Linked DNA regions of Homo sapiens. The protein of the gene in region 1 interacts with the protein of each later gene in a pairwise test. Each region holds a gene or a part of one and is shown in the gene's direction. Other genes may lie near its edges.

Evidence for each region. The genes of interacting proteins can lie anywhere in the genome.
Region 2: the proteins of CD53 (region 1) and VSTM1 interact in binary tests that used the Homo sapiens proteins (3 or more experiments, as listed by UniProt).

Annotation. Positions count from the first base shown.
Region 1 is NC_000001.11:110,893,648-110,897,147, forward strand, and holds part of CD53 (leukocyte surface antigen CD53), read left to right. Parts: intron 1-679; coding exon 680-754; intron 755-1,312; coding exon 1,313-1,408; intron 1,409-3,005; coding exon 3,006-3,086; intron 3,087-3,500. UniProt on the Homo sapiens protein: Structural component of specialized membrane microdomains known as tetraspanin-enriched microdomains (TERMs), which act as platforms for receptor clustering and signaling.
Region 2 is NC_000019.10:54,045,942-54,050,397, reverse strand, and holds part of VSTM1 (V-set and transmembrane domain-containing protein 1 isoform 1 precursor), read left to right. Parts: intron 1-1,994; exon of another isoform or gene 1,995-2,083; intron 2,084-4,456.

The DNA of each region.
Region 1 (3,500 bases):
CCAAGAGAAAGAATTTTTTAAAAAGTCCCTCTTCTCAGATAGTTGTCAGACTAATGGCAAAGGATGGAAGATAGCAGACATGGGGTAAGGCAAATGTTTTAAGCAGTCAAAATTAATGTTGGGGTAAAAAAGGTGAAGGAGAAGGAATAAGTGAAAATGTTTTCTGTTGTGTGTTATTAGCATAAAAGGAGTAAGCATCGAAAGCTGGAAACAAATATGAGTTAGAACCATGGCTAGGACCCTTCTTTCTACCATTGTACAGGGCTCCTCTCAGCCACTACCAGCAGTCCTCCACCCAGAGGTATCCCTGATCTTGTAGAAAGGACCAGGCCCCAAATGATCTAGTTTACCAACCTTTTGCTTAACTGCTTCAATAGGCAGATGTCAAAATTGCTTAACTTATTCAACAGGTGGTGGTGTGTATGTATTATGCATGTAGTGCTCTGATAGGCACAGCAGGTAGGAGAGAGCAAAGAAGACAGTTGATCTGCCCTCTAGAGTCTAATTGTAGAAAAAGAACACATATTTTCACAAAACAAAAGAAGGCTTACAACGGCCTGAGGAGGCAGAACAGGAACACCCTGTACTCGTGCAAATGCCCCTGGATGCTCCCAGAGCTGAGTGGGAGTGGGACGAGAATGGGGATCAGTGCTGTGAGAATGTATCTGCTTTGTCCCAGTTCTTCATCCTGCTGCTGATTATCCTCCTTGCTGAGGTGACCTTGGCCATCCTGCTCTTTGTATATGAACAGAAGGTAAGTTATAAAGACAACAACTTATTGTCTTAATACTGAAAGTGGGGAGTATGCAGTGGAGAAGTTGGTACAAAGTTACAGAATAAGTTCTATAATAGAGATAGAAATGAAGTGGAAGGATAGAGGAAACAGAGAGTAATTGTAATTGGGGGGAAAATTTGTATGAAAGAGATTGTATCTGAGTGGTATCTTGAGGGGTGCCTGGAAAGAGCAGTAAAACAAGTGTCTCTTCCTCTACTTGCTTTCCTCTGTGTGTTTGGCAGGAGAGAATGTCTGCCTCAGTGCCTAAGGATAGCCCTTGCTTTAATTGCTCCTTTTCCTCCCTTGTAAAGCCAGAGCTCTAGAAGGAAGCAAGCCTACTAAATACTTCTTCCTTCAATGCCACCTCATGCTCAGCCTGTATGCCCATAGATAAACACCCTCCCCTCACCCTTAGTTCTGAGGAGACCATTTGGAAGGGAAGCGCAAGTGGAACCACTAACCTATACTGGAAATTCCTTATTCCTTGAACTCACCTGCTTTTTACCATGTCTCCTCTGCTGGAATGTGCCTGCCCAGCTGAATGAGTATGTGGCTAAGGGTCTGACCGACAGCATCCACCGTTACCACTCAGACAATAGCACCAAGGCAGCGTGGGACTCCATCCAGTCATTTGTGAGTACAGGTGGAATCCTCTTCAGATCAGCCCAGACTTCATTTTCAAGCCTAAATCCTTGGGGGCTAGTTCCTTTTTCTGGAAGTTTCAGAATCTAAGGTCCACATCCCTGAATCCCAGAATAATGCCTTGGCTATCACAAACATGGGAGCCCAGTAATTAGTCTGATTAGTACAAAGTTCTCTACATTCTCTCTTTCATCCTTTTCTAACATGAATAGGTTTATTTTCTAAGTTCTGCTAGGATGTGAAGAAGACCCAAACACAGCAAACTGGATTAGTTTATGTATTTTCCAAAATTTTACTGAAAACAGCATTGTATAACACAAGAAATTGCCATTGAGTTCCCGAGTTGCCCAAATCAGGCTTGTTACCTAGCCCACCAACATCCCATTCCTCATGTGCTGTTTCCACCCACAAACGTGTATATGTACAGCATATACAAGCTCTGCATTCCTGACATGATGTGTTGGGAGATAAAGATGGAGCCTTGCACCAGTATAATCTATTTGTGTCTCGAAACAGTACCACTATGAAAGCACGCTGGCTTAGTGTGGAGTAGAAGAAATGGCACAGGAATTAGAGCCTGGAGACCAGAATTGGGTAGCCCTGGGGAAGTCACTTAACTTATTTAGATCTCCAATTCTTTATTTTTTTAATTCAGTTTAGAAAACTTTTTATTACATAATTTTTAGAAATATACAAAAGAGAAAAACAGAAAAATGAATCTCCCAACTCTTCAATAGTTAACATTTTCCAGTGTCATCTCATCTAATTCCCCACACTTTTTTCGTTAGAATATGTTAAAGCAAATACTAGACAATATATTATTTCACCCACTAAATATAAAAGAACTTCTTTTTAATACACCTAAAATTTTATAATTTCTTAATACCACTAATAAAGTCTATAATTAAATTTCCCTAATTTTCTCAAAAAATTTTAATTGACTTGTTCAAATCAAGATCTTAACAAGGCCTATGTGTTTATATTTGAATGATAGGTCTCTCTATTTATCTTTTAATCTATAATAGTACACCTCTTTGTTCTTGCTCTTTGTGGAAAGAAATTAGGCTATTTGTCCTTTAGACTTCTCCACTCTCTAGATCAGGCTAGTTGCTTCCTCGAGTATTTTGGTATCAGGGAGTCTCTGTCTCCCATAAGCCCCATGAACTTAAAAGTTTGATGTGGTTTTTGTTTTGTGGTAAGACTGCCATAGCTGTCACTTCCTGTTGCATCGTGTAAGCAGGTACATAATGTCTGATGGTCCTCCTTTCTGTGATCTTAAGATTGGTTGGTGGGTCCAGGGGTGGTCAGCCTAATCCCTCCATTATGCAGTCCCTGGGTGCCTTATTCTTGATCTGTAAAATGTGACTAGATTAAGCACAGGGGTCTCTACTCCACAGGGATCTTATGTGAATGAAATGGTATAACAGATTAGAAAGCACTTTGTTTTAAGGAGCCCATAGCAATCAGACCAATTCTGGACTTCTGCTATAGAGTCAGATCTGAAGGGCACACCTTTTCCTCTAAGGTCCACAGCTTTTTTTCACTGTTGACTTTCTAACCATCATCATTTTGGGGGTTTGGCTTTTAGCTGCAGTGTTGTGGTATAAATGGCACGAGTGATTGGACCAGTGGCCCACCAGCATCTTGCCCCTCAGATCGAAAAGTGGAGGTAATTTTGTCGGCAATGTTTCTGTTATTGACCTCTTTGTTTAAATGTTTAATTACCTCGGAAACTGCAGTCATAGAGGACCTAGACCTTCTATTGAGAAACAGGGGACCTTGAATAAAAGAGAGGCCAGGGCAACAACCTTGGGTAATTAGAAAAGTCAGAAAAACATACAAACAAACTCATTTAGACTAGAGACACTGTGATTGATCTTGCTACACTAGACTATTACATTAGAGGGGAACAGTTACTTTTGTGTGAAAGTAGGAGAGGGTTGTGTCTAGATATTTCTTAAGCAAGAAGTAGGTCTCCTTATGGTTAAAGTGAAATGTATAGGGTTGAGATAGAAAAGTTTCTCCCTCTCCCTCTTTCTCTGCTCTTCTTCCTTGGAGATGGCAGAATCCAGCCCCTTAGGGA
Region 2 (4,456 bases), on another chromosome or scaffold:
AAATAGGTGAATATTGAATTTTTTTTCTAATGTTGCTTATTCATTAACAATTGACTAAGATTCTGTCCTCAGAGTTTCTCATAAAAATTAGAGCTTTTGGGCCAGGCGAGGTGGCTCACATCTGTAATCCCAGCACTTTGGGAGGCCGAGGTGGGCGGATCACCTGAGGTCAGGAGTTCGAAACCAGCCTGGGCAACATGGTGAAACCCTGTCTCTACTAAAAATACAAAAATTTGCTGGGCATTGTGGTGGGCGCCTGTATTCCCAGCTACTCAAGTGACTGAGGCAGGAGAATTGCTTGAACCTGGGAGGCAGAGGTTGCAGTGAGCCGAGATTACACCACTGCCCTCCAGCCTGGGCAACAGAGTGAGACTCTGTCTCCAAAAAAAAAAAAAAAAAAAAAAAATTAAAAAGTTAGAGCTTTTGGCAGCATTCGGCTGAAACAGGAACTCATCCAGACTTTAAGGGCCAAATGCAGAATATAAATTGGCATCTAGATGCTTAATCATCCTTCCTTTCAGCAAGTCATAATCTTCCTGCAACCTACTCCAAAGAGCCAAAGTTGCTGAAGGTTGTTGCTAGCAGTCTGTGCTGGTATAATCGGTTTTCAAAAAGGTATCCTCCAAAGTGTTCTTGCAAGATAACTATTTGAAACGTTTTTATTCCATGATAGTAGGCTTGGGAAATGTCTGCTACCCTAGCACTACGAACACAATTCACGTCAGGAACGTTTTCTGAGAAAGATATGAAATCTAATGGGAGAGAGGAACACAGAAGTATCAGAAACGAGGTGGGAGATCTAGTGAGGTGTGAGGGGGAGGAGGAAGAGAAGCTTTTCTATTTTGAGCTCTTGTATCATTTATTTTCTTTCTTTTTTTATTGATATATAATTCACAGTCCAAAAATTCACCCTTGTAAAGTGTCCAATTCACTGGCATTTTGTATCTTCATGAGGTAGTATAACCATCACCACTACATAATTCCAGAACATTCTCATCACCCTAAAAGAAAATCTTGTACCCATTAAGCAGTCACTCCTCATTTCCCACTTTCCCACCAGGCCCTTCCAACCATTCATATGCTTCTCTGTGTCTATGATTTTGTCTATTCTGGACATTTTGTGTAAGTGGATTCATACACTATGTGATCCTTTGTGACTAGCTCCTTTCTCTTTAGCATAATGTTTTCAAAGTTTGTCTGTACTGTAGCATGCATCAATGTTTCATTTCTTGTCATGGTGAAAAGCATCGTATTGTATGGATAGACCACATTTTGCTTATCCATTCTTTTTTTTGTTTTTGTTTTTGTTTTTTTGAGACGGAGTCTTGCTCTGTCGCCCAGGCTGGAGTGCAGTGGCACAATCTCAGCTCACTGCAACCTCCGCCTCCCAGGTTTAAGTGATTCTTTTGCCTTAACCTCCTGAGTAGCTGGACCTACAGGCGCCCGTCACCATGCCTAGCTAATTTGTGTATTTTTAGTAGAGAGGGGGTTTCACCATGTTGGCTAGGCTGGTCTCGAACTCCTGACCTCAGGTGATCCACACGCCTCAGCTTCCCAAAGTGCTGGGATTACAGACTTGAGCTACTGTGCCTGGCCCCGTTCTTCTTTTGATGGACATTTGTGTTGTCTGCACCTCTTGGCTAAAGCGAGTAATGGTGCTGGAACACTGTGGTAGGAGTATCTGTTTGTCTCCGCGCTGTAAATTATCTTGAGTATGTACCTAGAAGTGGATTTGCTAGGACATATGGTGACTATTATGTTCAACTTTTTGAGGAACTGCCAAATCATTTTCCATTGTGGCTGTATCATGTTATATTCCTTCCAGTAATATATGTGGGTTCCAATATCTCCACATCCTTGTCAACACTTACTTTTCTTTTTTTAAATTATAGCCATCCCAGTGGGTATTATATAATTTCTTAAAATGTACTTTTTGAGTTCAAATTTGTATCATCACAATTCTAAACAGAATAAAATATCTTTGCCGGGCGCAGTGGCTCACGTCTGTAATACCAGGACTTTGGGAAGATGAGGCAGGAGGATCACTTGAGCCCAGGGGTTCAAGACCAGCCTGGACAACTTGGTAAGATCCCATCTCTACAAAAAATACAAAAATTAGCCAGGCGTGGTGGTGTGCACCTGTAGTCCCAGCTACTTGGGAGGCTCAGGCAGAAAGATCGTTTGCGCCCAGGAGGTTGAGGCTTCAGTGAACTGTGATTGCGCCACAGCACTCCAGCCTGGGTGACAGAGCGAGACCCTGTTTCAGTAAATAAATAAAATAAAAGTAAAATATCTGTAAGCACAGGTATGATGTCCCCAGCCTGTATTTATATGCCTAAAACACACTAGAAAACGACTCTATGTTCAATCGCAATGTAGAGAATGAAGATGAATTTTATCACACAAGACTTGACTTTCTTTCTGGTGCCTGTGCCTCCATTTATGCCCCGTGTCAGGCTGTATCTTGTTGCTCACGCTGACTTTAGTAGCGTAGCAAGTTATGATTTATTCTGGCAATTTGCAAATACTGATGCAACATTTGGCCAGGATCTGTGGACATCTCAGGGTGAACCCAGTTCAGCTGATTATGGGGTCATATGAAGATGAGAATTTTGCAATAATGTACTTCTCATTTCTAGTGAATTGCTGTGTGAAAGATACCGTAGGCTGGAAAAGGGGAGAACAGAAAGGACAAGGCAAGGCTGCTGTTTCTCTGCTTCCATCTGGGGAAACTGAGAGTCCAGGAGCAGCTGTTCCTGCCCTGTTTTCATAAGTCCTTGGAGATGCACTGATAGAATTGTTGCTTATGGCCAGGCATGGTGGCTTATGTAATCCCAGCACTTTGGGAGGCCAAAGTGGGCAGAACACTTGAGCTCTGGAGTTTGAGACCAGCCTAACCAACATGGTGAAACCTCATCTCTACTAGAAATATAAAAAATTAGCGGGGTGAGGTGGCGGGTGCTTGTAATCCCAGCTCCTTGGGAGGCTGAGGCAGGAGAATTGCTTGAACCCCAGAGGGGGAGGTTCCAAAGCCGAGATTGTACCACTGCACTCCAGCCTGGGAGACAGAGTGAGACTGTCTCAAAAAAAAAAAAATTGTTGCTTTTGAGGGGTTCTCTGATTCAGCTCCACCAGAAGCAGGCTCTTAGACAGCATTAGTGTGAAAGTGACGTTTTATTTTATTTATTATTTATTTAGTTTTGAGACAGAGTTTCGCTCTTGTTGCCCAGGCTGGAGTGCAATGGCGTGATCTTGGCTCACTGCAACCTCCGCCTACCAGGTTCAAGAGATTCTCCTGCCTCAGCCTCCCAAATAGCTGGGATTACAGGCATGCACCACCACACCCAGCTAATATTCTATTTTTAGTAGAGACGGGGTTTCTCCATGTTGGTCAGGCTGGTCTCGAACTCCTGACCTCAGGTGCTCTGCCTGCCTCGACCTCCCAAAGTGCTGGGATTACAGGTGTGAGCCACCACGCCTGGCTTGAAAATTACATTTTAGGGAGTGGGGAAGAAGGGCTGGGAGGAAAATAGATTAAACAAGTGTGGGATATCTGTGTCCCTCAGATGGTATCTTTGGCTCCATCCTGCAGAAAGCAGTGGAGACAGAGAAGGTCGAAGACCAGAGGCTAGGGAGCTGGGGTCCCCACAGCCGTCAGTGGCAGTTTGTCCCGGGCATGTAAATTCCAAGGCATTTGGAGTTCTCCCAGGCAGTCCCCCAAAGAAGAGATACAAATGTTCACTTTGGAAAGGGAAAGAAGCCACGATCTAGAATGCATAAAAATGGGAAAGGGATCTGGGGAACATGGGTTGAGGAACATTGACAGAATCTATTACAGAGAGAGATGGGTGTAGGTGGAATATTGGGTGAAAAAAAATCATCATTATACCTACAATCCCATTATCCGACACAATGAGTCAGTTTCTAGACTGAGCGCTTTAAAGCCAGGATTTTTCATCATTACCTAACTCTTCAAGTTAGATATTATTAGCTCTCTGCCCCCTCCTTATATTTAACCAAAAAATAACGTATTCCAGAAAGGGAAGGGAACATTTACAAAGTCAGGAGGTAGGAGACCCAGTACTAGAACTCAAATATGTCTTGTTTCAAACTCCCCACTCCTTTTGCTGCTCCCTGATGATCAGCTCAGAAAGAACCTTATTTCAGGGAGGGGGATAGATAGATAATTAGATGTGATAGATAATAGGCAAGTAGGCAGATAAATAGATAACTAGATATGATAGATTAGATAGATACATAGATGATAGGTAGATAAGTAGCTAGATACGATGGACAGATTAGATAGATAGACAGATGATAGGTAAGTAGGTAGATAGATAACTAGATACAACAGGTTAGATAAGTAAGTAGATAGATAACTAGATATGATAGATTAGATAGATAAATAGACGATAGGTAAGTAGGTAGATAGATACAGATAGATTAGCTAGCTAGC